Regions from separate parts of the Homo sapiens genome. Here all the other regions are linked to region 1. Evidence: fine-mapped expression QTL. A gene starts in region 1. Each other region holds a variant in brackets. All regions are shown on one strand. Distances are from middle to middle. Region 1 holds the start of RRP15 (ribosomal RNA processing 15 homolog). Region 2 overlaps RRP15 (ribosomal RNA processing 15 homolog). Region 3 overlaps RRP15 (ribosomal RNA processing 15 homolog). Region 4 holds the start of TGFB2 (transforming growth factor beta 2).

The links. PIP is the estimated chance that this variant, and not a neighbour inherited with it, causes the effect.
Region 2: its variant is fine-mapped to the expression of RRP15 in stomach (GTEx, PIP 0.95). The same link has a PIP of 0.9 or more in breast.
Region 3: its variant is fine-mapped to the expression of RRP15 in testis (GTEx, PIP above 0.99). The same link has a PIP of 0.9 or more in caudate, fibroblasts, hippocampus, pituitary, tibial nerve and whole blood.
Region 4: its variant is fine-mapped to the expression of RRP15 in minor salivary gland (GTEx, PIP 0.93). The same link has a PIP of 0.9 or more in subcutaneous fat.

What each region holds. Positions count from the first base shown.
Region 1 is chr1:218,281,915-218,290,023 of GRCh38, reverse strand. It overlaps RRP15 (ribosomal RNA processing 15 homolog), which reads right to left and starts at 4,731. Exons shown (of 5, transcript NM_016052.4): 1 at 4,569-4,731. The coding sequence starts at 4,707. RefSeq lists enhancers at 4,474-4,753, 5,284-5,353.
Region 2 is chr1:218,307,292-218,315,400 of GRCh38, reverse strand. It overlaps RRP15 (ribosomal RNA processing 15 homolog), which reads right to left. Exons shown (of 5, transcript NM_016052.4): 4 at 7,769-7,970. Among named protein-coding and RNA genes, the nearest start is that of RRP15, 26 kb to the right of the region's middle. The variant G/AGGG (reference allele first, on the strand shown) is at 4,769.
Region 3 is chr1:218,319,381-218,327,489 of GRCh38, reverse strand. The region is part of intron 4 of RRP15 (ribosomal RNA processing 15 homolog); the gene reads right to left. Among named protein-coding and RNA genes, the nearest start is that of TGFB2, 22 kb to the left of the region's middle. The variant A/G (reference allele first, on the strand shown) is at 4,766.
Region 4 is chr1:218,338,860-218,346,968 of GRCh38, reverse strand. It overlaps TGFB2 (transforming growth factor beta 2), which reads right to left and starts at 1,633. Exons shown (of 7, transcript NM_003238.6): 1 at 1-1,633. The coding sequence starts at 267. TGFB2-AS1 (TGFB2 antisense RNA 1) reads left to right here and starts at 1,291. Exons shown (of 3, transcript NR_046268.1): 1 at 1,291-1,366; 2 at 1,581-1,794; 3 at 2,507-2,773. RefSeq lists enhancers at 1-84, 1,216-1,265 and a silencer at 1,646-1,705. The variant C/A (reference allele first, on the strand shown) is at 4,001.

The DNA of each region.
Region 1 (8,109 bases):
AGGTACCCTATGAACTAATGTAAACAAAAGAGATGCAGGCAAGGCCAGGCACAGTGGCTCATGCCTGTAATCCCAGCACTTTGGGAGGCCAAGGTGGGTGGATCACCTGAGGTCAGGAGTTCAAGACCAGCCTGACCAACATGGAGAAACTCTGTCTCTACTAAAAATACAAAATTAGCTGGGTGTGGTGGTGCATGCCTGTAATCCCAGCTACTTGGGAGGCTGAGGCAGAAGAATCACTTGAACCCTGGAGGTGGAGGTTGGGGTGACCTGAGATCATACCATTGCACTCCAGCCTGGGCAACAAGAGCAAAACTCCATCTCAAAAAAGAGAGAGAGAGAGATGCGGGCAAGAACTAAAGTAGTGGCAACAGAATAAATGGATTAATTAAACCAAATAGATATGGAAGCAACAGGAAGACTAAAGGATGACACTTGTGTTTCCAGCTTGGATGGGAGTAGATGGCAGTGTCTTTCTTAGAGACAGAAGCAGCTTTGGCAAAGAAAATGTGTCTATGGCATAACCAAGCAGACACAATCAATTGTTATCAACATCGTTATCACTGATCTTGAATTTTACCAAAAATATATGATCTAATGGTTAGATTATGGAATAAAACGAGTGGAATAACAGATAACATCTTGCACCTATGGAGGTAACAGTTTTCTACTAGGAAGCAATATGATATACTGGAAGCACTATTTCCAAGCTTCTTTTCTTATCTGTAAAATAGAAATGCCATCAGCTACCTTACAGGGTTACTAGAATAATTCAAACCTCTTTTCTGGGGAGAGCTCCAGCTTACAAATACCACATTACCAAAGGTGGGAAAACTTATTTGGCAAAAAGAGATGGGACTAGCAGTTTTTTTAGGTCAGAAGAGACATCATCGTCATCACTAATATTTATGAGTGGGTACCATGTGCCAAATATTAAATGCTTACCATATATAAACTCATTTAATTGTTACAACAATCCTAAAGTAGACATTATTATTATCCTCATTTTGTAGATGAGGAAATTGGGGTAGATAATAATAACTAGCACAAAGTCACTCTGAAAGGTAGTACCATCACAGGTGCCTCTTATACAATTGAGTGAACAGGGGAATTTGCTTCCAGAAATAACATATGGATTTTAGGAGAAAGGAAGGAAGGAAAGAATACTCTGGTTATAAACATTGGAAGTGCTATAGAAATCTGAACACAAAAATGTCCCTTGGTGATGAAATCTTCTTGAGTGGGAGGGAGAAAAGTTTGTCTCCATACCAAAGTCTCCTTGTCCCCAATCCTTTCTTTCCTTAGATTCAAAGGCCCAACGCTTTCACTTTCCAGATACTTTTTAAAATTATCTATGTCCTCCTGATTCCTCAAACATATTAAGGTAGTGGTCAAGAGCATAAGCTCTACAATCAAACTTCAATAATTGTTGTATCATTTATCAACTTGCTTATCTGCTTATGTACAGAAGTGGGCAAGTTATAAGCCTCTGTGCCTCAGTTTTTTAAATGTAACAGGAGGATAATAGCAGCATCTATCTCATAGAGTTGTCAGAATTCTCTGAGCTGATATATAGAAGGAACTCAGAACAGAACCAGGCACATAGGAAAGTTCCAAAAGTATAACTATTGTTATTATCCAATTCCTCTAACAGTGTAGTATGCCCAAAACCTATGGTGCTATAAGCTCACATGAAAGTTGCCTGTTTGCAAAATTGAATACTTTCTTTTTGAAAAATATTTCAAGTGGGGCCCTTCTCTGTCTTCACTGCTGTGTCCTAGTGCAGATCCTAACATAGAATTTTGCAATTGCCTACAAACTGTCCTGGCACTCTTTGGCAGTCACCGTACATCTGGCAGTAATATTTATAAACAACTGTCACCATCTTGCTTAAAAGTTCTCAATAGCTCCCTGCTGCCTACAAATACACAAGGCCCTTTATAATCTACTTTTAACCATTGTTTCCAGTTTTACTTCTAGTCACTTCTCTGAACAGCTGGAGCCATAACAGAAGATTACTTTGTCTGAAATAGGCCATGAATTTTAAGAGACCGCATGCCACTGTATATGCTTTTATGTCTGAGAAAACTGCCCTCTATACTCCCAGGTCAGGAAAACTATTCATCCTTCTAAAGCCTAGATAGAATGCCACCTTATACATTTATTCAACAAAACAATTTACTGAATACTAAAGTATGCAAAGAAGACCCTGTGAAAATAAACAAGACATACTTTTGACATTTGGGGAACTTATCTCTATAAGGAGAGAGATATGTTAAAATATAATAACATAGTATATTATCAATAATACACGTAAGATATAAGTAAGCAACGCCTAGGCTGGGTTCCAGAGGATATGAATTTCTCTGTCTCCATCCTTACCTTTCCAAAATTGAACCATGATCTTGAAAACTACCTTTTAATTATACTAATACACTATATTACAGTCCTGTGTTTAATATCTTTCCTAAAACTGAAATTTTAATGCAGAAATATATTCATCCTTTGTATCCTCAACACCTAGAGGGTGACTGGAACCTAAGGGAACACAACAAGTGTTCATTGAATTGAATTAGATAAATTAGGTTTCCATATTGGCCAAAAACCTTTTTAACCCGTAATGTGGCTGATCTATAACAGCAAGAGAACCTTAAAACCTAATCAGCATTTATAATAATACGCTGAAAAGTCAGAACAGTTCCAACTTGGAATTATCCAGTATTTGAATAGAAAAATCCAATTTGGCCAGGTGTGCTGGCTCACACCTGTAATCTCAGCACTTTGGGAGGCCGAGACGGGTGGATCACTTGAACCTAGGAGTTCGAGACATGCCTGGGCAACATGGCAAAATCCCATCTCTACCAAAAAAAAAAAAAAAAAAGAAAAAAAAAATTAGCCAGGTACAGTGGTATGCGCCTGTAGTCCTAGCTACCTGGGGAAGCTGAAGCAAGAGGATCGCTTTGGGGGGCGGTGGGGGAGGAGGTCAAGGTTGCAGTGAGCCCTGTTTGTGCCACTGCACTCTAGCCTGGGTGGCAAAGCAAGACCCTGTCTCAAAAAGAAAAAGAAAAATCCAATTTGTAAGCAGTACTGACATTTTGCTCCAAATATAGCAAATATAGTACTCTTCCCTTCTTGAACAATAGTGTTTGAACTAGTCTAATGAATTTAAAAAATATCAGAACCAGAAGTTCTAATTTTGGCCCAACAAATAGTTTGTTTTCCTTAACAATGTGGCAGGAGATGAAGACTCTAATTACCTAGGAATTGCAGTAGCATATGACACTTTCTTCTTGGTCCTGGAAGTCCAGGTTAATTCATTCATTTACTTAAATATCTGTGAAGGACCCACAAGGCAATAGGAACTGGGGATACAGTAGGCTCTATTTTTATGGAACTTATATTCCAATTGGGAAAGCAGCAAATACATACATCAAATGGTTTGGGCAGGGTTGAGAAAAAATAAAGCAGGGCAATAAGTCAAAAAGTGAAGAAAAGAAGGCAGGAAGAAGAGTAGTGGTGGTACGTTACATAGGGTAGTCAGGGACAAGTCTCTCTGGTAAGGCACTGGATCAGAGGCTGGTGAGGGAGAGACATGCCAAGCATTTGAAAACTATTCTAGGCAGCGGAGCCAACAAATGAAGAAACCATGGTGTGGGAGCATGTTTAAGGTGTTAAACACAAGCATACCGGTATGGCATGATTACAGTTAGTGGTTTGTGAGGGGCATATTGGCCTATGACAGACAACCTGGCCCAAATCATACAGCCTAAGGATTTTGGATATTATATACTGAGATGAGAAGCCACTGGATCATCTCAAACAGACAGCGGGCATAATTAGAAATACGTTATAAAAGAATAGCTCTGTCTGTTTTTTGGGTATCAGCTGGTACAAAGGAGCAATAACTGGGCAGTAGGAAGTCAGGGATTACCTGCAATTCCTTGTAACCTAATAAGCTGGTGCCAAGAATGATGGTAAAGAGGAGCAACAGACACAGCATGGTTGAAAGCCTCAAAAACACATCCTTCCTTCCTTTTATTATCAAGCGTCTCTGAGAGACATAGTTATCAAACACTACCAGTTTTTAATCGACCTTAACCACCAAACTCTTCTTTCATTCACTATTATTTAGTCTCTAAAACACGCACACATCTACCGCACAAAAAGTCAAGTACACCCCCTTCTTCCTCTTACCTCTTTTAACCTTTTGCTTCTTACACCCTATGAGACCCATTCTTCTCCTGTTTTCAAGTACCCTCTTCCTTTCACCCTTTGCTACTGTAAGTTTCTCGGTAGCTGCAGGTGTTTCACCCATTTTATTATAATTAATAATGGTGACCCTGAAAATACCTAGTAAAAGAATGTGGAAACTCAAAATTACAGTTGACAGCGTTACTTCTCTGAACACGACTTCCCCAAGCCTCCTCACTAAGCCAAAGTCGCCCCTCTGAAGTGGTGCCAAGATAAAACCCAGGTGGCTAGCAGCAAATGAAGTCGCAAGCGCTGCTTGACACGAACTCAGCCCCGCCTTTCCTCCCAGACACCAAAGCTCAGCCCTACCACATTACCTTCACTATCAGAAGTGTCTGTGGCCTCGTCTTCCAGCACCGACGCTACGGCTCCAGTTACCATTTTCATCTTCTTCTTTGGGGTCTTTTTCAGGTTTTCTTCCTCACTCACACGTGAGTCCGGAGCGGCGGCTGCCATTTTTCTGCGCCGGAAGCGTCACCTGACAGTTGCGTCCGGTGGCAACCAGAGGAACTTCTGCATTTAGTGCCGGTAACACAAGGTTCCGGGGCGGGGTCGTCTAGCCCAGAGTTCCGGGGCCGGAGCCTCAGAATGTGACTTGGAGAGAGCTCTGAATGGCTCGGTGTGTTTACGCGAAGTCCGTTCCAGGACGAAAATCAGCGGCTGAATGGCCTCAGCCGACTCCTCCGCTAGCTCGCCTGTGCCCTGGTCCTCCGCCCCAGTGCGTCCCCAGCCCGTCCCCAGCCCAGCGCGGTCCACTTTGATTTCCTAGCCTCGGCGGCTTCCCTTGTCTGCTGCCTTAATGTTGGTTTAGTGTCCTCCTCAGGTGTCTCTTACGTGCCCACTGAACGCCGCAGCAGCTAGGACGCGGGACAGATCCACTGGGGGCCGATAATTAGAATACGATCGTATCATCCCCCCGCCCAAGATAACACGCGAGACCTTTCTTGCAAACCGAATAGACTCACCTTCTTTCCCTGGGGCGGGTGTTGAATCCAACCGCACCCTTCTCCCTCGGACCCGGCTGGGGCCTGGAGGGTTTCTGGCGCCCGACTGCGCAGTGCAGACCGAGGGTGCGAATACCTTGCTATCCGCGCGAGGATCCTGCCTCCCACCCGGGGCTAGCTTTTCTCTGAAGTTAGCCTCTGTCACCAGCTCCTAGTTCCATCGAAGCACCTACCACAGTCGGCCTTCATTTTCCCCCCTAAAATGTTGGCTTCTCGCAGGAGGGGAACGTATTTCATTTACCATGTCCCCTCAAGGTTAGCAACAGAAGTTGGCCTGAAGTGAATTTTCCAAAAATATTTTTGGAAGGGATGAATGAATCAATGAATGAGTGACAGAATATAACTATTGACAAAGTTAATGACTCAGATGGATAATGCAGCAAACCTTTACTGGCTAGACTTGTTCTAAAGGCTTTCCCCAAACTTAGCGTTTTCCCTTTCCCCTCTTAAGGAGGTTCATAGATTGTGATACCCATAAGTCAAAAACAAAAACAAGAATCCTCATTTTGACATATTCCAGTAGATGTTTATGTAGGAAATAAATATATATTCACATCCTAAAAACTCAATACAACATTTTTAAACTTGGTTTTTAATTTTTTTGTCTTTTAAGAGAGAGAGGGTCTAGCCGGGTGCGGTGGCTCACACCTGTAATCCCAGCACTTTGGGAGGCTGAGATAAGTGGATCGCTTGAGTCCAGGAGTTTGAGAACAGCCTGGCCAACATGGTGAAACCCCATCTCTACTAAAAATACACAAATTAGCCAAACGCAGTGACGAGTGCCTGTAGTCCCAGTTACTCGGGAGGCTGAAGCAGGAGAATCGCTTGAACCTTGGAGGCGGAGGTTGCAGTGAGCGGAGATCGCGACTCTGCACTCCAGCCTCGGCGACAGAGCGAGACTCTGTCTCAAAAACAAACAAACAAAATCTACCACCACCACCACCAACAACAAAAAATTGTGCAGAAAAAAAATGACATTTTGAATACAGTTGGTAAGAGATGAGATTCCAGTTTAAACCTTTAAAAAGTGCAGGTATTGACCAGGCGTGGTGACTCATGCCTGTATTTCCAGCACCTTGGGAGGCGGAGGCGGGAGGATCTCTTGAGGCCAGGAGTTAAGAGACTAGGCTGGACGACATGGTGAAACCCCGTCTCCACTAAAAATACAAAAATTCGCCAGCCATGGTGGTGAGCACCTGTAGTCCCAGCTACTCAGCTACTCAGGAGGCTGAGGTGAGAATTGCTTGAACCCAGAGGGGCGGGGAGGGGCAAAGATTGCAGTGAGCCAAGATGGCAGGTATGGTGGCTCCAGCCTGTAATCCTGGCTTCTCCAAGGCTGAGATGGGAGGATCACTTGAGTCCAGGAGTTCGAGGCTGCAGTGAGCCATGACTGCACTACTGCATTCCAGCCTGGGTGACAAAGTGAGACCCTTACTCTTGACAAAATAAAAAGGGGTGCACTTTAGAGGTGCCCTTTAGGATGCTGCTGATGCCCAGCAGCTCTCACCATCCTGCTCAGTGTGATCCTTTCATTACCACTGTGTCCTGATCTGGAACCTATTTTTTTGCTGTCTTTCATAGCTAATGCTTGCTTTTGCCTAGGGCTAAATGTAAATTGGAACAAGGAGTTCCAAATAAAGTTGGGAATGCACTGGAGAAAGTTGTAGAGAAGGAAGCAAAGTTAAAAAAAAATGATTGCAGTGGTTCAATGGAAAACATGTTCCTGCATATTAAACACAAAGTTCCTGCATTAATGTTAGTGTTATTTAGTGATCAAGAAGTGATGTTTTGTGCATTTAACATGTTAATGTGAGTTTACGTATATATAGAAATTTTTTTTGTGTTTAGTTGCAATTTAAGAAATTGCCTGGAGGGTAGGAATGGCTGATTTGTTACACATTCACATTTTTCTTCCTTTAAAATAATATAAAATAGGATCCAGGTTTTTATCCAGAAGTCTGATTTTCAGAAATTGATTACTGCTGTTAAGTTGGAGATACCTATGTTAGCTTATTTAATCTTCACAATAAGCTAATGAGTTAAGTACTATTATTTTTTCCATTTTATAGATGAGGAAACAGAGGCACAGGGTAAATAACTGCTGACCGTCACACAACCAGTACATGGCAGAATCACATTCAGACCCAAGCACTCCACTGCAGAGTCTGCTCAACCACGGAGTTGCACTGCCCACTCAGAGGGTTGTGCTTTATCACTTAGCATACAGTCAGAATAGGCAACAAAAATTTCCTTTTTTCTTCCTGTTTTTTCTTTTTTTAAATTTTACTTTACATTCTGGGATACAAGTGCAGAACGTGTAGGTTTCTTACGTAGGTGTACATGTGCCGTGGTGGTTTGCTGCACCTTTCAACCCGTCATCTAGGTTTTAAGCCCTGCATGCATTAGCTATTTGTCCTAACGCTCTCCCTCCTGTCACACCCCAATCCCCGATTGGCCCTGGTGTGTGTTGTTCCCCTTCCTGTGTCCATGCGTTCTCATTGTTCAGCTCCCACTTATGAGTGAGAACGTGTGGTATGTGGTTTTCTGTTCCTGCGTTAGTTTGCTGAGGATGATGGCTTCTAGCTTCATCTATGTCCCTGTGAAAGACATGATCCCATTCCTTTTTATGGCTGCATAGTATTTCCTAATGTCTATGTACCCGCATTTTCTTTATCCAGTCTATCATTAATGGGCATTTAGATGGGTTCCATGTCTTCGCTATTGTAAATAGTGCTGCAATAAACATATGTGTGCCTGTGTCTTTATAGTAGAATGATTTATATTTTTTGGGTATATACCCAGTAATTGGATTGCTGGGTCAAATGATATTTCTGGTTCTAGATCCTTGAGGAAT
Region 2 (8,109 bases), 25 kb before region 1:
GGGACCTGGGTGAGGAAGTCCTCCTTTCCTAGGCTTCTGTCTTTAGAAGCAAGAATTCAGCAGATCTAAGAACCAGAAGAAATGCACATTTTTAAAAGTACATAGCAATTTGGAGTCTGGGTCTAAGTTGTAAGATACCAAAGAAGCCAGGTATTTCAAAAGCATTCTCACCACTAATTATTTACCTATGAAGAAATTACAAGGTTGCCATTTATGACAAATAAATGAGAAATAGAGGAGTACCCTACCTTACCTCTATGTATGACATTTAAAGTGCTCATACCACAAAATCAGAAAAAATAAATACCTGGACTCTTCCAGTAACTCTTTTTCCTAGGGACTTCTATTAAAAATTATTGTCTAGCAATCACTAAGGAAATCACTTTCTTTCTTTTTTTTTTTTTTTTTTTGAGATGGAGCCTTTCTCTGTCACCAGGCTGGAGTGCAGTGGCGCAATCTCAGCACACTGCTACCTCCATCTCCCAGGTTCAAGCGATTCTCCTGCCTCAGCCTCCCAAGTAGCTGGGATTACAGGCCCCTACCACCACGCCTGGCTAATTTTTGTATTTTTTAGTAGAGACGGGGTTTCACCATGTTGGCCAGGATGGTTTCGATCTCCTGACCTTGTGATCAGCCTGCCTCGGCCTCCCAAAGTGCTGAGATTACAGATGTGAGCCACCATGTCCCGCCAAAAAATCATTTTCTAACAGAAACCAGCTAGCATTTTCCCTTACTATAAAATTATAATTTCAGTTTCATTATTAAAAAAAAACCTGAAATTGATATATTGGCAATTTCAAATAAATGAAAACCTTGTAGAAAGTCTGTAATTCAAGAGTACAAGTAAAGCCAATGCTTTCCTAAGAGCAGCCAATATATTCTCCTTAGAGACTCACAGATTTAACATCACATCCGCTTCTGTCGGCCTTTAGAGTAACAGAATTACATTCCAAGAAATCTGATTGAATTTTAGTTGGCTTTTCAAGAAAACATTAAAAGGAATAATTACAACTTTGAAAGCTAAGAAAAAAAATTAATGCCTCTACATTAATAAAATCTTGATTAACATACTGAGAAACAAATCACTCTAGATAAGAACATGTTTTGAATAGAGGAACAGAGGTATTAATCCTTTAAGAGTTAAAGCTTAATTTTTTTATAAAACTTTACTTAAAAAATATGTTTTTGTTGCTTCCTTAAACAGTGTTCTAAATACAATGTAATATTTTTAAAAATCACTCAGGGTCACCAGGCATGGTGGCTCATGCCTGTAATCCCAGCACTTTGGGAGGCCTAGGTGGGTGGATCACTTGAACCCAGGAGTTCGAGACCAGGCTGGGCAGCATAGCAAGATTCCATCTCTTTAAAAATAATAAAATAACAAAACATAAAATAAAATAAAATAAAATAAAATAAAATAAAATAAAAATCACTCGGGGTCAACATCAAGATATTGGTCAATATGCCTTGCCACATGTTGGTATGTAATTGGGATGATGCTTCCTGTATTTGATCGAAGAATTACAGCTTCTGGATTAGGGAATTCCTTCCAAATAACTGAAAATTAGTTATCTAAACCTAGAAGATATTACATTTATTCATGTGGAAAACTCTCTAAAATAGACTATTCATCTTCCCTGACTCAGTAAACAAGTTAATCATTCTTAAAGATTCAGGAACCCTACTAAGACATACAGGACTCATTAGTGCCTGCCCCAGGTGGCCTCACCATACTCTGCTATTCTGGTTGCCTCCTTGTTTCTGGCCATGCTATTTCCCGCACTAACCAAATGCTTCTGCCACACTGCTGCTGTTAACCTGATCTTTACTGTCATCCTTCTCATTTCTGATTATAACCTGGAGCAGTCACTGCCTCCAAAAATCTTTACCTCTCAGACATGTTCCATATTTTATATTCTCTATTTTGGTGAAAGCTGTCACCATTTCTGAGTCTCCCAAGTTGTAAACCTCTGAGTTATTAATAAATCCTCCCTCTCCCATATCCCTCTACATCATGTTAATCACAAATCAAGTCAATCTATACCTTAAAATTGCCTCTCCAATCTGATTCTTCTTTTCCCTTCACCCCAACCCAATTTACCCCACACAATCTTAGTTCACGTTCTCTCCCCTTGCTTTAATTATGGCAATTGTCTTCCACTAATTGGTCTTCTGACCATCCTTCAGCCCTTTCTTTTCCTTAAAAATAATGAAATCTTCACTAACTGAGCAACAGATTCAATCATTCCCCAAACTTCAGCACTGCACAATATTACTCTTGTAACAAACCTCTACATGTACCTCCTTAGTCTAAAATAAAAGCTGAAATAAATCAAAAGAGAAAGACAGAAAAATCAAATCTGACCAGATCACTTACCTTATGGCATTGGCCTCCAAATGCGTAAGGAATAAAGTCCAGATTCCTCAAGATAGGACACTTCAAATCTAATGCCAACCTACTTCCTCAGAATCCCTTTTTCTAACTCCCCACTCATTAGCAAACATCCTACATTCCAACTTCCATGGAAGAAAACAGGAAAGAAAACTATAAGGAATCTGAAAAATTACAGAACTGGCAGGCTTTTTCCCCCTTACCATGTTTACTTCATGCCATTTTAAAAATCAAAGCTAAGTTTCTTATATTCTTCTAAAGTACTTTCCTCCTGAGTCACATTTCCTATGACTATCCCCACATCACAATTTTTCCAACTTTACGATTTTCTAATTTCGTGAGCAATATATGTACCACCCAGAACAGCTACTAAAACAATTTGGCAAAGAAGGTTCCTCTTCTTGTTTCTAAATGAAATATGTGGTGATCTGATTCATTCCATAGAACCAAATCTCCACTGAATTTAACATTCAACATTTTACCCCAAAGTTCTATTTATTGGCTAAGAATCATTCTTTTTTTATGTCTTCTCACATCCACTAACAGTATCTTTTTTCATAGCCCTATCTCACAAAAATATAAATAAAATAAAATTAGTGACTACCAATTATTCACTACAAATGTTTTAAGAACGGGGATAGAGAAGGTCTTAAAAGGTTCCAAAAAGAAAAGAATCAAAACGAGCAGAGCAGCACTGAACCGCTCAATGGCTAAAAAAAAAAAAAAGAAAAAAGAAAGAAAGAAAAAATTTCTCTCAAACTTCTGAGAGAAAATTACTTTCCAACATGGACATCTATGTTCTATTAGTTTCCTGTGGCTGCCATAACAAATTGCTACAAACTAGGTAGCTGAAAACAATAGCAATTTACTCTCTCACAGTTGTGGAGGCCCGATGCCCATATCTGGCAAAGCCTCACTCCCTCTTGGGGCTTCAGGGGAGAACCCATCCCTTGCTGTCTCCTCCAGCTTCTGGTGTTTCTTGGCATTCTTTGACTTGCAGCCACATCACTCCCACCTATTCCTCCATGGTCACACTGCCTGCTCCGATTCTGTCTGTCAAATTTCTCCTATGTGTCTAAGAACACTTGTCACTGGTCTTAGGGCCTACCCGAATAATTCGAGATTACCTCCTTCATCTCAAGATCATTAATTTAACTGCATCTGCAAAAACCCTTTTCCAAATATTGGAAGCCATCTATCGGGCCAACATATCAATAAAAAATAAGGACACCTATACTCTCTCCCAGAAAGCTGAAAACTGTGCCATCACTAAAATGCAGGAGAAGGCCAAGAGAAAATAAGACGTTTAGTCCGAAAAAACAGAGGATACTGCATAGGAGAGAGGCGAGAGGCAAATGGAATTCCCAGGAAGGGGATAAAGCAATGTTGCAAAATGACAGTGCACAGCAGGTAAAGAACAACCAGTTTAGAGAGTAGCAGCAGGATGATCACAAGAAATATACTACTGAGAAGGGCTTAACAGTTCTTTTGAAGAGTATGGAAGGATTTTGGCATATACAAAACTAAAGGAAAAAAAAGGCAAGTGATAACTCCAGGAAAAATAAAAATTGTAACAAAGCTGAAGAAAGTAAGTATTATTATTGTATATTATTTTGCTCAGCAGTGAACAATATTCACATTGAATACTAGTATTCAATCTAGTGTAAGAAATTTTAATATACTATGTTGGAAGGACAGAATGTGGAGAGGTGTGAGGAAAACCAACTTTATCTTCCATGAAAGATAGTATCTAGTACTGATAAAGAAATAGTGTAAATATTATTTAAGATATGGAGGTAAATACCAGAAGAAAGTACTAAGAGTTGCCAAGGTATAGAGAAGAATGGAAAAGGGCAGTGGTTATTTTATTTAACCATAAATTCAGTTTTCATACTGTGCTCCTATTGCTTTGATAATAAAATTCTAATGCAGAAAAGACTCTAAGAAAAATGACTTGTTCGGCTGGGCATGGTGGGTCATGCCTGTAATCCCAGCACTTTGGGAGGCCGAGGCAGGCGGATCACCTGAGGTCAGGAGTTCGTGACCAGCCTGATCAACATGGTGAAACCCTGTCTCTACTAAAAATACAAAAATTAGCTGGGCATGGTGGTGCACGCCTGTAATCCCAGCTACTCGGGAGGCTGAGACAGGAGAATCGCTTGAACCCAGGAGGCGGAAGTTGCAATGAGCTGAGATTGCTCCACTGCACTCCTGCCTGGGCAACAGAGCAAGACTTTGTCTCAAAAAAAAAAGAAAGAAAGAAAAAGAAAAATGACTTGTTCGGGCCCTATCACAGTTAAAAAACATTTATCACAATGTCTGTTTCTTATACCTTGAAGAAATATGAAATTTCTATAACAATTATTTTTTAAAAAA[G/AGGG]TTCTTTAAAATAAATTCCCAAGTCATGTGTACATTAGGAGAAAACAAAACCAAACACCAAAACCACTCCTAAAGTATGGTTAACTATAATGGGCTCAATGTATATAACCTATGTTATATTATTACAATTCTATCCATATTTAATATAAAACTCCTGCCTCTTTTGATTATTGAACATAAGACTTTAATGTCAAAACTGAATAACACATATAACTGGGAAAAAGAATTGAAGTCATTAAAATGAAGGTGTTTCCAAATTGGTATCCTGATAGATGGCTGCCAGTGAAATCTAGTTTATATGTGGGTGGCCTCCAATTTTAGAGACTTCACAATATTAGGAATATTGAATTTAAAAATCTGTGCTCTGAATATCATTACAGCCCAGGGAAGGGAAAACAATAAGATTTCTTTTGTTCCATTTTATGATGAGAGAAGGAACACCTATGAGGAAAGAGTACAATAGCTATGGTGCTAGGACAAGGTTAAATATAAGAAAAAATGGCAAATATTACTTTCTACTTTCTTAATCTCTTCCTTTATTTAGCTCATCAATGATTCATTTCTGAATAGCACTTTGGCACATCAAATCTATGCTCACCTTTGCCACCCTGCCTTCCCTTGATCTACCTTAAAAGTTCACCTATTTCAAGTAACATACATAGATATAATGATCTATGCTCTAAATAAATAGTACACCGTTACTCTGAAATTCCCTTCACACAGGGGTAGCCACTTAATGTACATCTTGTTAGAGCTGGTGTAACTAATGTTAACGTGTACTTGACATACTAATTTAGAATTTGCCTACTATCAAGTTAATCTTGCTTACTTATTTACTTGAAGTCATTTGTCCATCTTAATTGTAAGATTTTAAAGGACACAACAAGGATAACACCTGGTAGAAACAGGCACTTAATAAATATGTTTTTTTTTTTTTTTTTTTTTTTTTTGAGATGGAGTCTCTCTCTGTCACCCAGGCTGGAGTGCAGTGGCACAATCTCGGCTCACTGCACCCTCTGCCTCCCGGGTTCAAGAGATTCTCCCACCTCAGCCTCCTGATTAGCTGGGATTACAGGTGGGTGCCACCATGCCCAGTTAATTTTTGTATTTTTAGTAGAGACAGTGTTTCACCATGTTGGCCAGGCTGGTCTCGAACTCCTGACCTCGTGATCCGCCCACCTTGGCCTCCCAAAGTGCTGGGATTACAGGCATGAGCCACCGCATCCAGCCAAGAAATATGCTTTATATCAGTAACTGATCCAATCTCAAACAGTGTAGTACTTTCATAGTTATTCAGATGCAAACTCAAGCAAAATTTTTAAAAAGGAGTCTGTTTTTCCATAAATATGCAATCAACATGAAAACACACATTTTTAAAAGAAAGAAATATGTCAGGGTATTGATGGCATGGGGCAGGGTGTTCTAGAAACAAATTACTTTTAGAGCAAAATCACTTTGGCTTAAGTCTCAAGCAATTTTTGACCTTGTCCCAGACTTACAAATACTGTGATCACTGAAGTAGAAAAAAAGAAAGTCAAGGGCAAGTGCAAATGGTAAGAAAAAAATACAATGCCAGTGGAAAGAATCTGTTGTGTATTTTCATAACTCATGAAAGAAATAATCCCAAAGCAAAAGTATGTGCTTCTATAAAATGTTATTTTGAAACCAATAGGAAAAAGAAAAAAAACTAAGTCTCTTCATCTTCCCACTAGTTCTTTCCCATCCAATGTTGCTGAATCTTTCTCTAACTCTTACAGTAAAATGTTACTAGCGAGAATACAGCCTATTAAAGCCTTTGAACTAAAAAGTATAAATCCCCAAACACAGTGTTCATGTATTTACAAGTACTTCTGATAGACACTTTAAAATAGCAGCACTAGTGAGAACTATTATTATATAAAAATACAATTTGAGCCCTTTGATATTCAAGAAAGAGACAAGTAGATTCAAAAACTTTTGTCACTTAGGTAAAATATGAACTTAAGAAACTTTAAAAAATGCTCCAACCCTAGGCTAGCATAAAATTCCTAAATGCTCTTCTTGCTCGGGTTTCAATTATTTTCCCAAACAAAAAAATTTATGACAGAAATTCTCATTTCCTGACTGATTAAAAGTACCTTTGGTTTTGGCAACAGAAATCAAGCCATCAAAATATAACTACATATTTTGCTTTTTTAAAACGACAACAATAGAAACCCACCGCTTATAAAAGTAAAGCACATCTCAAAACCTTTCACCTGGTACATTAAAAAGAAATTACTGGCTGGGCTCGGTGGCTCACACCTGGAATCCCAGCACTTTGGAAGGCCGAGGCGAGTGGATCACCTGAGGTCAGAAGTTCAAGACCAGCCTGGTCAACATGGTGAAACCCCGTCTCTACTAAAAATACAAAAATTAGCCGGAGGTGATGGCATGTGCCTGTAAACCTGGCTACTCAGGAGGCTGAGGCAAGAGAATTGCTTGAACCTGGGAGGCGGAGGTTTCAGTGAGCCGAGATCGCGCCACTGCACTCCAGCCTGGGCCAGGGAGCAAGACTCCATCAAAAAAAAAAAAAAAAAAAAAAAAAAAAAGAAAGAAAGAAACTACTGAGGCAGCTGGAGAAGCAAAGTTCTCATGCCAAAGGTCATAGAAAGTATTTATGCTCTTAATCTCTCAACCAAACATCACTAAAGATGCCTCAATGCAAGAATGACTTTCTACCATTATTTCCTAAAACTCTCTGACTCTTCATATTTTGTAAGTTACACACCCTCTATGGGTAAAGTCTGAAATTAAAGCTGTGGCCCACACAGGCTTCTATTCTCCAAAATGTGCAAAATGGCAGGATTTCAGATAGGAGAGAGGCAAGCCCTATCTCTAAAGGTTGCGGGCATGGAGGAATTTTAATAAAATTTAGGAAAAAAACACAAAACTCTGTAATTCTATAGTCTGGTTTTCCATCTCAAGACTAGTTTTAGAGCTGAAAGTCTGATACACTGAATCCTATAGAAAAGTTTTTACCTGTTTGGCTTTTGGTTTCTTCCTGCTTGAAGCAGTCTCATTTGTACTTCCATCCATCCCTCTCAAAACACTGATGAAATCTTTCTTGGAAACAGTTGATATCAACTTAGCACGCTTTCTCATAGAACTTCCAGCTTCCTTAACCTTTTCATCAACATTCTTTTGATGTTTCTGAACAGCATTAAATAATTGCACCACACCCCTGTAGAATATAAAATGACCAGAATGATGTATTAAATAATTACCCTAGAATACAAACTCTGAGGATAGGAAAAATGTATTTTCACTGTCTAGAAAAGAGGCAAGCATTTAACAAGTACTCAAAGGAAAGAACGGGATAA
Region 3 (8,109 bases), 37 kb before region 1:
TCTATTAAAAATACAAAAAATAGCCTACGCATGATAGCACAGGCTTATAATCCCAGCTACTGGGGAAGCTAAGGAGGGAGAATCACTTAGGAGGAGGAGGTTGCAGTGAGCCGAGATCACACCACTGCACTCCAGCCTGAGCGACGGAGTAAGACTCTGTCTCAAAAAAATAAAGAAAACCTTGTTTTAAAGGCAGCAGAATGACTCTTTAAATTCTAATCCCTACATTTGCTAAAGACACACGTAGAAAGAAAAAAGGCAGAGGGCCCATGCTAAAGTGGCAGTTTGAACATAAACAACTAGTCTTGCTCAACTGCTATATTCAATAAAACTACAGAAAAGTGATTTGTTGTTTTAAAGACATAACTCAGAAGGTCAAGATCAGAAAAGACAATATCAACACAATTTTGAAGGTGAAGGAGATGGACCAGAAGACACCAGGAAAGTTAAATCCTAAGACTGCAACTATCACACTGACAAAACCAACCCTATTTACACTGCAGAATCTGCAAAAGAAACAGAAACTGGCAGTATGTATCAGGGACTTCTGGAAGTTAAGGGTTGAAGTGGAAGAACCAAAATAAAAAGCACTGGGGTGAAAGGTATGCTTTGAGAAACATTTAGTGCTCTACTTCCCCATCCCATTCCACAATAACCTGGCATAATACCTGGAGGTTTAAATTCTGAAGAGGTAATGGGCTTGCACAGATGAAAGCATAGGTATAGAACCAAAAATGGGATTAAGTTACACACACACACAGCAACCAGATATTGAATCCCAGCTCTCTTCTCACACTGGGCTCCCAAAATGCTGGTACGCAGACCTTTTTCTTCTAAGTAGGAGACTGGAAGAGTTACTTTATTGAAAACCTGACAAGTTGCTAATAAATTCACCCAGAGAACCCTACAGTGAAATTTAAGGTGGATGACACCCATATATTCATAGCTTCCAGTTGAATTTTTTGGTCTATTTGTTCTAATCATGAACACACAACTAAGGATTATCAGAAAGAAGAGAACAATGCAAACACAAAATTTAAAAAACGACTTGTAGGAACAAAAATCTCAAGAGAAAAAAATTTAGGGAAAAATATCATCAACATCCTCAAAGAGTTAAAATATATTGCATCCATAAAATCAGAACAGTTGTTATTTGATTTCACCTTGTTTATTTATTATTTTTGAGATGAAGTTTCACTCTTGTTGCCTAGGCTGGAGTGCAATGGTGCATTCTTGGCTCACTGCAACCTCCACCTCTTGGGTTCAACCGATTATCCTGCCTCAGCCTCCCGAGTAGCTGGGATTACAGGCACCTGCCACCACGCCCAGCTAATTTTTTGTATTTTTAGTAAAGATGGGGTTTCACCATGTTGGCCAAACTGGTCTCAAACTACTGACTTCACGTGATCCACCCACCTTGGCCTCCCAAAGTGCTAAGATTACAGGCCTGAACCACCACACTCGGCCAACAGTTGCTATTTTAAAAGAAACATTAGGAGAATAACAAAGAGCTTAAAATTAAAAATATGGTGGAAGAAACAAAACAAAAAACCACATTATAAAAGTCAGAAGATAACGCTGAGGAAATTGCCCAGAAAATAGACTAAAAGAAAAGAGATGAAAAATGGAAGAAAAAGATAACTGGAGAACCAGTCCAAGAGGCCCAGTATGCAAATAATAGGAGTTCTACAGACAGAGAAAAAATGTACAGGAGGAAATTAATAAAATACTTTAACAAAATTTCCCAGTGAAGGACACACATTTCCAGATTAAAACCAGCCCTCGAGTGTCCAGGACACAATGAGAATATTATTGTAAAACTTCAGGACAACAGGAACTAAAAGAATATCCCATAAGCTTCCAGGAAAACAAAAGTCACATGCATACCAATAATCAGAAATCGAAAGATTCAGATTTTCCAGTAGCAATATTGGAAAGCAAGGAAGCAATAGACAAATACTTTCAAAATGTCAAAGGAAAATAATATCCAACCTAAAATTCAATATTGAGACACATTATTATTGAAATGTGAATACTGAACAGAGGTATTTTCAGACATACGAGGTCCCCAAAAGTTTACTTCCAATGCAGCCTTTCTCAGGACACTGAGGATGTTCTCCATAAACAGATGGAGTAAAACAAAAAGAAGAAAACATGGGATAGAGAAAATAGGAGTCCCACCAAAGGAAAAAGAAGGAAACAGCCAGGATGAGAATGAATGGAGATTCCAAAATAACAACTACACATCACGCATGAAGGACAACCTGCAGCCAAGTGACTCCGTGGGACGGCATGCTGAAAGCGGTCATCACCATGACATCTGTCACTGTATGTTATTTTAACTTGACAAAACCGCTGGAGAATATGCTTTACCAAAAGAGTGAGAGTGAACCAAGAAAAAAAGGAAGATCCAAGAACCCAGACATAGGGAATTCAATCCAGAAGAAATTCCAAGGATCAAAGAAAATTTAAGTCCCAGATGACAAGAGTGAAGCAACCCAAGAAAGCAATCAGGGGATACAAAGGAAAATAGAGGCCTCTAGGAAAGAATATCTCAGAGAAAATAATTAAAATAGATACATCACTTCAGATCATTTGACTTCAAAAAACTAAATTAATAAAGGAAATTAAATATGAAAAGTCAAGACAATGATTAACTTCAGGAAAAATAGAAAGGAAACATATAAATATGGAATATTACAACATTCAGCTGTAAATAATTTTTTCACACGAATAAGAAATGCTGAATACTGACAACTATAATTGTAAACTACATTGAGTGGCCAAAGGAGAAGAGACTGTGTAAGATAATTAAATCTTTGCCTACTAAAACAGAAAACTAATAGATAATGCCTCAAACTGATTAATCAAAAGATACGACTACACATATGCACATGAGTTAGTGATGGCAGTGGCCGACCATCCGGAGTGGCTGCTGCCATCACACCAGTTGCAGCAGGGAGGTGCAGGCGGTGGTAGCAGGAGCGGAAGCAGCAGTGGCGGCGCTGGAACCCTTGTGCCCCGCGTCCCTGAGGCAGATAATTGTGTCACACCCACGCTCACACAGGCAGGCAGGACCCACTCCCAGGCCCGGAGCCTCTGCCATGGCCTCAACCTCACTGCCGGCCGCGTCTTGGGAACCCGCGAGTACCCGGCCGAAGGTGCAGGCAAGACTCAAGGGGCCAGCCCCCAGAGCGTCGGGTTCATTTGTGCGGGGTTGGCAGGGGCCATGCCACCTGCACCTCCCCTGCAGCTGCTGCTGCAGGGAAAACATGGAGTAGGCACCAGTTCCCAGGCCCGCTCCTGGGAATCACAGCGATGGGGCCAGACTAAGTCACCCGCCAGCAAAGGAGCAGCACAGTCAGGCACGGAGGGGCAGGCTGAGAGGGGCCAAGAGGAGGACTTGGGCCTGGGACGGTGCCAGGCTCCACAGAGCTGGTGGGAGTTGGGAGCAGGCAGAAGCCCCGCCCTCGCAGGAATAGCTGCAGCAACCCAAGTCCCGGCTGCAGACCTAGGTATGGCTGCACTCTGGAGTGGAGGGGGCCAGGAAGGCGCCCCCTGCCCCTGCAGGCTCGGAAGTATCTTCTCCCACTGCCCGGTTTCTCCCCGCTCCCAGTGCCCGCTCTGATCTCAGAGCAAGGTTGGAGCGGAACCCGGGCACTGTTACAGCCCAGCTGGGTATACGCACACTGGGGGCAGCGCTGACATGCCAGGCCCCTGCCCCCTTGGCCCCCTCCGGACTTTGGGTGCCAACAAGCATGAGAGGGAGGCCGAGGTGGGGCTAAGGGCAGCTCAGCATTGACCTGCAGGCACTCCTTGGCCAGAACAGTCTGGGCGCCATGAGCAGTGGCAGGAAGCAGACAGGCTTCTGGGTAGAAGGGGGAGGGTCCCCGGTGAGGCCCCACCTTCAGGCCAGGGAGGGCCCGAAGCCTGGGGACCGGGCTGCCAGTCCTGGGGACCAGAGTGGGAACTTGTAGTGCTTTTTCTGGGCCCATCCACGGTAGCCCATGGACCAATTGGTACTCAGTTCCTCTCCTCTAAGGCCCATAAAAAGCCCCGAACTCAGCCAGACCCAGAGACAACAAGACCACCAGCTGCAGCGAGGAGCTATCCACCCCAGGGTCTCCTCTGTTCTATCGCTCAATAAAGCTCCTCTTCATCTTGCTCATCCTCCACTTGTCTGTGTACCTCATTCTTCCTGGATGCAGCACAAGAACTCGGGACCTGCCGAACGGCGGGGCTAAAAGAGGTGTAACACAAACAGCGCTGAAATATGTCCCTTGCTCACCACGTTGCAGGTGACAAGGAAAGAAGAAGGAGAGAAGAGCTGCAGCCCTTCGGGAAGCCCAGACCTAGGAGCTCCCTGAGCCAGGGCTGTGACACCTCTTTAGGGCTCTGCAGTTACTGGCATCTCCAAGCTTCCAGAACGCCACGACGTTCCCTGGTGTCGGCCATGGAAGCTGCTTACAGTACACCTGGTCCAGCTGCAGCCTCGCAAGTAGCCGGCGCCCATGCCATTGCCGGGAGCTATGGACCCTGCCGCAGCTGGCATGCCTGGCTGTGTTCAGTGGCAGGACCCCACTCTCGCTCATACATCCCTCGCTCTTGGCAGGCATGGGATCCAGGCTGGTAGCACGAGCCGAGCGCAGACTGCCAGGCTGAGTGGGCAAAACGAGCCCATAGGACCGAGCAAAACAGGCAAAGGCACCACTGGTCACAGAGGTTTCCAGCTGGTGAAGCGACACCCAAGGATCCTGTAACATTA[A/G]GAATACAGAGATGTATAAATGCCAGCAGGACTAGCTAGAGAATTAAGAATTAGTTGCCCCTGAGATAGGAGCTATGAAGAGTAGGCAGAATGGGGTGGAAAACAACTTTATTTTATAATAAACGTTTATGGCAAAATGTGGCTTTTTAAACTACATGTATAAGTAAAGAATTTAAAAAAAAAGGGACAGCAAGAAACAGAAAAAAAAAAAAGTACACCTAAACCATTTCCACAAATCCTAAGTTTCCCAAGCTTTTTTCTACCAAGATCGTCCCAAAAATATCCTAAGAAATCCTTCTAGTTTTATTAACAATGATGATTCTGTTTTACTTCCTAACAATAAATGAAAAAGGGTCAAACACAATAAGTATACTATGAACTCATTGTGTGCCAAGCACTTTATATAATATTGCCTTATTTCTAATTCTCTTAAGATTCCTGGCCAGATAGCAAGTATCATGCTTACCTTATAAGAAAACTAAGGCTCAGAGAAGTGAAGTAATTATTCAAGTTCAGAGTTAATAAAGAGCTGAGTCTATACCCAAACACAGATCCATTTGATTCCAAAGCCCATGTTCTTTCCACAACACTAAACTTCTCTAAAACTTAACTGATGATATGAACACAATACAGTAATATACTGTGTTCTTATATAACCTGTTATAACCTATGAATGAGGACTAAAATACATGCAAAATGCTGAATATGCTTAAGGTAATTTCCATAAAAGATTTGGAGTAAATTACATTACACACTGGATTGACATAATTTCAATTTGCTATATCTTTTCCATAAATATGATTTACCATTAAGTATAAAAACTTCTTAAATACTTGGAGCACCCACACAAAAAAAAGGTAGATCAAAGATTAATATAAGAAAAAAGAAAAAAAAAAGCCTGAGGCAAATTCTAAATGTGTCATTCATCGGAAAAGCTTGCTTGGGGTGATCCCTGAATAGATTTCATTAAATGTTAAGACATCCTGAGAATGAAGGGTTTTTTGTTTTGTTTGTAAAAGAGAAGTAGCAATTTGGTATATTCTTTTTATAAAAGGAATAAAAAGAGAGTTCTGGATTTGAATCTTAGATAAGCCATTGACTCCAGTACTGCAAATTAGAAAGTTTTAGAGGTACAGGCCTTGAAAGAAATAAAAAATTTATTATTTTTTATTAACTGGTTATAGCTATAAGATAAAGTTAACCATACTGTACATGTTAGACATAGGTATTTACTATCATAGATGGAAGCTGTGTTAGCTGTTAAACATAACTAACTGTAATATAAATCGTAAAGTATAAACTGAAATAACCAAACTTTTATCAACTTACGGAGTCTTTCAGTGTTGCTGCAAGGCAGCACTGATTCAAAGACTTAAAGCAACCTATACAACTCTTTCTGCTTATATCAAATGAAAAGTAAAAGTGACTAAATGCAAGAACTTAACGAAAACTGCATGATGCAAGGAAACAAACAGTCCCCACCTTCCTTGGCCTAGTTTTATACAAATATTGAATTGAAACCATACAGAAGCAGTCTGTGTCCATTTTGAAGGTGAAGACAACCCTTAAAAATGTTAATCAGCTTTCATTTCAAAGCGCAAACATACATTGGCAGCCACTGAACACTGAAAAAGAAGGTTTGGAATTACACATTCATCTCACACCAATGAGATGGTTAACTTCATTTCATTTGCTGGGGTGGGGGATAATTAAAATCAAACCATAAAGAAAGAAACAATATAGTCTCATCTATATTTAGTAATCAACAATAGTTGATTTCATTGCTTTCCCTAACAAGAAAGTTCAGTTTTCATTTTAACTCAGTTTCACCTAAATTTTAAAAAGTTCTTAACATTGACTAAATTCATCTTAATATCTTTGTTGTTAAAAATTTTCAGTAAGCTATTTGCAATTGTAGTTAAAAACATACTTTATGGATTCAATTTTTTTCGCCCACTGATTTTTTTTTTGTTTTGTTTTAATTTCATTTACGGCCCCTGAGATAGGAGCTATGAAGAGTGTGCAGAATGGGGTGGAAAACAACTTGATTTTATAATAAACGTTTATGGCAAAATGTGGACATATGTACCCACTACATATGTCCTTGTTCAAAGCGGTTCTATTTGGTGGTTTCTATTATTATACATCTTGTTATCCATACATTTAGTTCTTAATTCAACATTGATTTTCCTCAACATTTAAATTATCTTAAGAACTCTAAGTAAGTTAAAGTTAACTAAGGTGACCAAGCCAAATGTCCAACAATGATAGACTGGATCAAGAAAATGTGGCACATATACACCATGGAATACTATGCAGCCATAAAAAATGATGAGTTCATGTCCTTTGTAGGGACATGGATGAAACTGGAAATCATCATTCTCAGTAAACTATCGCAAGAACAAAAAACTAAACACCGCATGTTCTCACTCATAGGTGGGAATTGAACAGTGAGAACGCATGGACACAGGAAGGGGAACATCACACTCTGGGGACTGTTGTGGGGTGGGGGGAAGGGGGAGGGATAGCTTTAGGAGATATATCTAACGCTAAATGATGAGTTAATGGGTGCAGCACACCAGCGTGGCACATGTATACATATGTAACGAACCTGCACATTGTGCACATGTACCCTAAAACTTAAAGTATAATAATAATAAAATAAAAGAAAAAAAAAGAAATAAAACATAGTAAAAAAAAAAAAAAACCTAAGGTACCTGAAAAGTCAAATGTAACACTTCAGGGAGCCTTTTGACAGTGCTCTATTCATTTTCATAGTAAATTAGTTGTTTGAAATATTCAGATACACTCTGCCAATTAGTCTCTTAAAGCACATTTTATCTGCTATATTATATAGCATATAAATGAAAATCCAGATTTATAAAAAATTAGCAGAGCTGTGAATTCAGCTGAAAAATAGATACCAACGTCTTCCTGATATCACAAATTTGCTAAAAAGCTTACATAAGAAAACATATGTAAAAGTGCTTTGCAAAACTATGAAATGCTATATAAACAAAACAAAGCTGCATCTAGTAAGGAATATGCACACTATAAATCTACTGAACTCAACAAACAATTTAGAAATAAATAGATTGGTCCCATCAGACCCCTTTGGAGAAACAGGTGATTCTAGGTCTGGGACACAGAAAGCACAAGGTTTGGGCTGGACATCCTGTCCCAGAATGCAAGGAATCACTCAAAGAAAATGAGGTCATGCCAAAAGGACACATGAGCCAGTTTACACAGGTTCTCACAGCCACATTTGCAAACTTAAGCAACAAAAAGTATAATGACACTCATTGACTGTAAACACTGAATAAAAATCCCTATGTCCATGACAT
Region 4 (8,109 bases), 57 kb before region 1:
GCAGGCGGCCGCCCTCCGGCTCGCCTTCTCCTGGAGCAAGTCCCTGGTGCTGTTGTAGATGGAAATCACCTCCGGGGGGACTTCCTCGGGCTCAGGATAGTCTTCTGGGGGACTGGTGAGCTTCAGCTTGCTCAGGATCTGCCCGCGGATCGCCTCGATCCTCTTGCGCATGAACTGGTCCATATCGAGTGTGCTGCAGGTAGACAGGCTGAGCGCGACCGTGACCAGATGCAGGATCAGAAAAGCGCTCAGCACACAGTAGTGCATTTTTTAAAAAAGTGGAAAAAAAAGTTGTTTTTAAAAGTCAGAATAAAAAAAAGAAATCAACAATTCTCAAAGTATAGATCAAGGAGAGTTGTTTGGTTTTTTGTTGTTGTTGTTTTTGATGCGAAACTTTTGCAAACAATCTAGTCAATGCCCAACAGAAAAACGTATCCTGCTTGAATTCCTTTAAAAAGAAAAGGCCAGTAGTTCCAAAAGTGGAAATATTAATACGGGACGGGCAGAGGGAACCCTGACTTTGGCGAGTAAGAAGAAAAAAATTCTTGGAGCAATGAGATGGGGAAAAAAAGAGACGAGTGGCTATTAAGTAGAAATAAATTTAAGAGGAGGAAGTGGAGTTCAGTGTGTCAGTCTCGGGTGCGGAGTGGCGGATCTGAACTCGGCTCCTCCGGCCAAAAGGGAAGAGATGAAAAGGTCCCGGGGCTGGCAGCTGGCGAACTGACGGGAGGGGCGCCGGGAGCGCGGTGAGGGGGGCCGCCGAGGCTGACCTGGGCTGAAATTTATATATTTAAAGAAGGAGCGGTTCGGTCCTGCCTTCCACTGCGGCGCTGAGAGCAGGAGCAGCAGCAGCTCCGGAGCAGAGAAGCGCACACGTGTGTGCGTGCGTGTGTGTGTGTGTGTGTGTGTGTGCGTGTGCGCGCGCTGGGGGCGAGCCCAGCGCACCGCGGGGAGGAGGGTGCGCTTCGCAGGGCGCTCGGTACTCGGTCGGGTGCCGCAGGGGCCGCAGAGGCTGCTGAGGCGGCGCGGATCCTGCTCTGGGAGCTGCGCTCCGTGGCCTACACCCTGGCGGGCGCGCGCTGACCCGCTTGGTTACTCCACGTTGCTGCCGCCGCCGCTTGCAAACGCTTCCAGCCTCCAGCTCCCTCCTTCTCCTGCTCCTCCTTCTCTTGCTCCAAACGCCAACCCAGCCACAGACGATCAGCCGTCGCGGTTGCGTTCACCCCCTGCGGATCACAACGGCAGCCCTTGCGACACCCTGGCTGGGGAGTTTTATTCCTGAGGGGGTTGCGCAGGGGCTCCCTTGGACTCCCACCCTTTCCCAACCTCTGCTGGCTTCTCCCCAACGTGGAATTGCTCGCTTAGGGTAGGTAGGCACTTGCCACCCTAAAATAGATCCTCTCTGTCTCCTCCTGTCTGCAGCCGGGCAGCCCCTCAGTTTGTTCCTGGATGACTCCCTAGACCGTCAGGCTAATATTCTCCATCCCCCTCCCCTGCCTCTTTCACTTGCGCTCTCGCTCTGCTGTCTCTTTCTCTCTTTCTCTTTCTATCTCTATCTCAATCTGTCTTTCTCTTGTCAGGAGCTTCTGGAGCTCCGCTCGGAGCGAACCTTCTGCTGCCAGCAGATAACATCACGATCTTGCCGGGGAGGGGAGATTTATAAGTTCTCTCTGAACCACGTGTCTGCCTTCAACAAAGTGACGTGCTAGGATTACAGTCAGAAGTCCTCTCGTTACTTAGACCACGAGCTCTCCCCGAACCGTTGAGGGAGTGTGGAAATGAGGACCGCTGTGGGTAAGGGAGGAAGGAGGTGGAATGTGCGCCCTGACAACAGTGATTTACGGTATTTACTTTCCAGTCATTTTGGACAGGTCTGTTGAAGGAAGGACAATCAAGTCTCCCGTTTTTACTTAGTGTAGCTCAGTCACAGCCTCCCAAGCTGAATCACTTGCTCTAGAAGGGAAGGCTTCCCTCCTGTATTATGTGTGCACACGCACCCCTATGGGAGGGAGCACTAGTCTACTCAGGGCCAGGCCAGTACTGAAGACATACCTTCCAATCTTTTAAATTCATGTCCTACCTCTTATTTTCTGGGATACCTTAGCAGGTTGCCATCCCAGAATTTATTTTGTTAGTTTGTTGTTTACAATGTACCCCTCTGTTTGTGAACTGCTGGAAAACAGAGATCCATCAATTTTACCTAAAGAATAAGGTATACTTGTTTGTTTTACTGATTTGAATGAATGGTCACCTTTATAATTTGCTGCCTAAGCCACTTCTTGTATGGCTTTCTTCTTCACCTTCTTGCTAGGCTAAACATTATCAACCAACTTCATTCTTTCCATAGCATTAATCCAGGAAGCTGGAATTTTAAGTGTTTGATGTCTACTGTTCTACACTACTCATAACTTGACATTTTCAATTTCAACTAAGTCTAAATTAGATGAATACAAGAATAACTCTTACCACTGTTCCACCTTCCCTTTTTCTTTTATTTTACCTTTAGTTACTCAAAGTCAACATTTTCATTTCGGCATGACTCTGCAGCCATACTGACCAGACAGATGATTTAAACTGGAAACTCTGTTGAATGTACTCCCAAACCCAAGATCTCTATACTGTTCTCTACTTCAGATGTTCCTGAGTTCAGAAAAGTCACAAAGAACTTTCTATCACTTTTGGAATTTATACTTCAGTTGTGTATGGGGCCTAGGTTATTAGTAGAGCACTGAATAAATAAAATAATAATAGCTAACATATACTACACTTAGTAATTTGATGTGTGTTGTGTATGGTCATTTAATCTTCACTATGAACCTATAAAGTGGGTCTTATTATCCATATCTGGCAGATGAGGAGACTGAGGTACAAAGAAGTTAAGTACTTTGTTCGAGACCACAGTAAGTGGTAGAGCTGGATTTTTGCAGTCAGGATCCACTATGTTCTTACCTACTATGTACTTCTGAGAAACAATGGTCCCAGAATATGTTCTGACAAACAGGAATTCTGGAGTCAAACAAGTTTGGGAGATACTGGGTACTCTCCTGTCCTCTTAGATTCCTCATTCTGGAACATTATCATGTTAAAGGCTCTGAAACTCCTGTAGAAGAGAAAACCTTTTCACTCTTTTAACCCAGCATTTTCCAAACTCCCTTGAATACAGAATTTTTTCCATTATCACACATTGAAAAACTCTGGAATAAAATAATTGTTCCAACCCACTTCTGAATAATTCTAAAAATTATGTATAAATCAGCACCAGCAGGTTCCTTTCCTTGATACCAGTTTTGAGTTGAAGCAAAGCTACCATCCCAGTAGCCCAAGAAAAAGATAATCAAGAGGCGCTACTGTCAGACTAGTAGTTTCATCCAGTTAGGTCCTCCCTCTGAGTTCAGTTTGAGAACTGCAGTAGGCTAGCTCTACAGATTGGACAAAAAGTGAATATTCTTACACCTGTGGCCATTATAGACACAGAGCAGGAGCTCCAAACCAGAGCTACTGAGAGAAGATGCTGCTGTGGAATATGGCTGGTTACCTGAATTAGCTATCACTGTATTTTGCTGAGGATACAGGTTCAGCTTCCACAAGCCAGTGAGCATCTTTCATGTTTATAGACAACCTTCTTGGTACAGACACTGATGCACCTTAAGTAGATTCAGATTAGAGTGTGGATAGAGTAGCAAAAGTTCATTTACATCACTTCTAGGAAAACAGCGCAAGCCATAAATTCTGATGGCCACCCCTCTTCCTGACATAGACATACACACTTTTGTTCATAATACTTAGTTTACTGAGTACCTATTGCTCACTTAACAACTCCTTAGACCTGAGACCCCTGACTTACTCATAAGAGGCTACTTTAATTTCCCCAAAGCCCAGGAGGGTAAGACGGGAGGTATTGGTAAAAGCTTCTGGAATGGGTAAGTGCAGTAAGTGAGTATAGCAGGAGAGGAGGAGCCCCTTTCCACCTCTCAAATGATCAGTTCTTTGAAGACCTAAC[C/A]GGCAAGATTGCTAGAGCTGTCTCCCTGGTAACCGTAAATGAATCATTTCTTCTATTAAATGGCTCTTATAATGCCTTTTCATCTCTATATTTAATGGAGGTCTTATGTGCCGGGGTCTCTACAGTCTTCATGGTAAAAGGGTATTTAAATGATATACACCCATCTTGATTACTTCAAGGAGGCAGGAGAGCACAGTGGTTTAAAGGGCAGGCTCCAGTCATGGTTTTTTGGGTTCAGATTTCTGTCACTTTCTGGCTTTGTGATCCTGAACAAGTTACTCACTGACTCTGTGAGTTTCTTATCCTATCATGTCTTTATTTCTGTCAAGGAATTTATAATAAAAATATCTGGCCTTCTCTCTCTCTCTCTCTCGCTCTCTCTGAAAAGCCAGGAAAGAACCCAAGAAGAATTTGCTTCTAGTTCTGCCTCCTAGTAGTTTCTGTAGGCACATTTTAAATATTATGGTATTTTGCCCCCAGTAATTATAGGAGGGAAGGACAAGAAAATACACTTTTGGTGAATAAAATGCTAAATGACTATCAAAGTTCAGTTAAGCATTCACGATTAAAGTCTCTTATTAAAGCCCTCAAATGGAATCTTTTGTTTTGAAATTACAGAGGTAGAGAGTGGAGCTGTTTCCACTCTTAGCCATTCTCCACTCATCAATGGGTCTATTCACTTAAGTAATGTGGGATTTCTACAAGAGGCTGAAGAAAACAAAACTACTCATCCCTGTCCTGGAGTTTTACGCCTATGGATCATAGGTCCTTACTAACATTGACCAAAGCATAACTTCATTTGTAACAATTCTGGAAGCTTTCCAGAACGGTTTCAAGCATGAAAAATCAGGAGGTGAAAAAAAGAAATACATGGAACGACGGTAATTGATTACATTTCCCCCCAAATAGTGATACTTGATAAATGCAAAATAACCCTTTAATATGAAAATACACCAAAAGTCTTTTAAGATTTTATTTATAATTTTATATTTGATACCACTATTCAAGAACAATGTTTGGTCTATATCAATTTTGTCTCATGTTCTAGATGCATTTCTATAAACAGCTTTATTTCATTATTCTAGTTATGAATAATGAAACAGAAAGGTGGTTTCCTTACAAAAAATAATCCGATTATTATTTCCATTTGTATTTAAAGGTTAATCTAAGGAAGAAGTGTTAAGGAAAAATGAGGAAACAATGGGCGGGGAGGAAAATGGAAACAGGGTGGGTTTAAAGAGATCAGAGGTGGTAAAAGATAAAGAGATAGGACCAAGAAAAACCACAGCATATCAGCAGGTTGTGAGGCTTTAAAGAGATAAACTCATCACACTAATGATACACTGTGGGAACATTATCTCACCCTTTGGAATTATGATTAGTTGATTGATTACTGCTTGTGGCTTTTGGGCCACTCATAACTCTACAATTTTAGCTCTCCAGGAAAGTCTTTCTTTGGGAGGCAGTCTCACAGTGGCCTGTGCTATGTCATCCCTGTAGCTGCAGCCTCTGGTTTCTTGCCCCTGGTGAAATTCACCCACTAAGATAGCATTTAGTAACTGATATAAATAAATGAACATATGGTAATAGTTGGGACACAGCATAACGCTATGGATAAGTGCTTAACAAAATCCTAATGTTGACAAAAAGAAACCAGCAGCAGAATTTTCCTTATTTTTTAGGGCAGTACTTGACACTCACCTTTACAGAATCTCTACTCCTCCTTCATTTACTCTGTCACCACAGAAGTTCACAGATAGACTTCACAAAGCAAGAAACCAGAATGAGGTTGCTGGGGAGAAATGGAGAGAGTGTTTTGGCCAACTAAAAATAAACACAAAAGATGAGAAAGAAAAAGAGAAGGTGAGTGATAGAGAAAAATATGACTGTGTTCTCATAATTAAAATGAGTATAATATAACAAAAGTTTTTTTTTTTTTTTTAAAGATACATGGTCTTTAAATGAATTTATGTGTCTGTCATCATCTCAGTGGGCTTCATAGATTGGGTAAAATTCCAAATGTCTAAATTTCCACTGCCAAAATTACCAACCTACATTTCAAACAAATATGCCGTTCTGCTGCCTCGATTAGCCTGCAATTAAAAAAAAAATAAATAAATAAAAACCAAGGGTCAATAGTAATTGCATAAAAAAAGAAAACCTCAGTGTAGTTTATGATAGAGGGAAAAATTAGTAAATAAGTATTTTTAAAAGCCTAAGTATGTAAGTATTTTGAAAAGCACAGCTATATAGATGGTTATAATTTATAAAACGGGAGACTACAGACCACAAACTCTCACTGATGATTATTTGAAATCTTAGTAGAAAATAAAGTTCTCATAACTAGGGTAGCTACATCATTTGTCACACAAATCCAAACATTTTTTGCAGTAAAGAGGATGCCACTCATTGATACACTAAGACAACAGGGGTAAATCAGGACTCTCCCAGATAATTACCTTATTTAAAATGAAGCCACTTTAAATCTGTAAGAATACATCTGTTAGTCTTTCACCTTTTTTCGGTTACAGTGGTGATATTATATTTTGCATACTTCCAAGACCTTTTTTTTCCTTTGCCTATGCAGCATATTCTAAAAATCACCATCAGAGATACATTTTGAAAATGCTACTTGCACAATTTTAGCATTAATATAAACCTGCACTGCCACAAAAATGAACCCCCGAGAGGTGCTTGGTCAAGTTCTTTTGAGCTCCATGAAAGCAGTCTCCCACAGAGAAAGGTAGGAGAAGATAAATACAACAATAATGGGATTAACAAGCATTTTATGTATTCTTTGTATAGCCAGAGAAATTCATTTTTAAATTTTTGAAAATCAACAACAGAAAAAGAATCCCAAAGGTAAAAACGAGTTTGGCCCCCCTTCCCATTTTAGTGCCAGTACAGAAAAAAAAAGAACAGTGTTTCTGTTTGTTGTTTGATGCTTGCAGGTCACATAATAATGACTTTTCACATGTTGATCCTTCTTGTTTAGCACACAGTAACTGCTTCATAAAACCAGGGACACCAGGAAAGTTACTTTCACATAATTGAAGGGGCTGTTTCCTGTTAACGTGAAAATTTTTGTGATCAAGAATCCTACCATTTGTGGTTTCTCTTTAGATTTGTTACATCTATATGAGTCCTTTTAAGTAAAAAGGCAGTATCATTACTGTTCCAAGCAAATAGCACTATCTACCATAAGAAATAAATATATGCCAAAGAAATAAATCCAGAAATGGGTGTGTCATTGTGACCTGAAGAGACAAATAATTTTGCCTGCTGGGTTATTGGAGGTAACAAGTTTTTTGTATCTGTTTCTTTAAGAGGACTTTGTCTTACAATTTTAAGTTACTTAAGATCATTAAACAATAGACTATTATAAGGTCAATCTGGTTATTTAACCAGTTGTAACAATTAAATCTAATCAATGTCACACTTATACTGATTGTTCAGAAACTACATACTCGTGTGCTTGTAGGGAAAAAGGATTTTTATCAGTTGACTCAATGATAGCTGAAATCATGCCACCTAGAGGAAAGCTGTGGTATGTCTTAAAACTTCATACTGTTAAATTCATTAATGTATAATTTTGCATTGATTTGTTGTTACTGCACATCAAATAAAAATTAGTTTCACATAAATATTGTAAAACATGCATTTTTAGAAAAGATGCTAGATCAACAGCAATGGGATATCCTTAATTATCAAGTTTTAGTTACCTGTTATCTCCTAGGCAATAACATGATAAAAATCTAATCCTCATTTATAAAGCATAATTTGAATATCTAAATTCTTAATAGCAAAAATGTCAACCACTTACATTTATGAGTCATCTAATGTCATTAAGTAACAGAGCAGCAAATAGCCAATATATTGTATCTTAGGAATAAAAAACCAATAGCTGTATATAGTAAATTATTGGATACCACTTCAGTAGAGTAGTTCCATTTCTGCAGCATCCAGATAATTCAAATATAAAGTTTTAATTATCAGACATGCTCAGGCAAGACCTATAATGAATTATCCAGTAGCAAGTTACAGAATAAACTGACAACAACAGCCTGGGGTGATATGTTAACTCTAAATTGACACAGCCAGGAAAATTT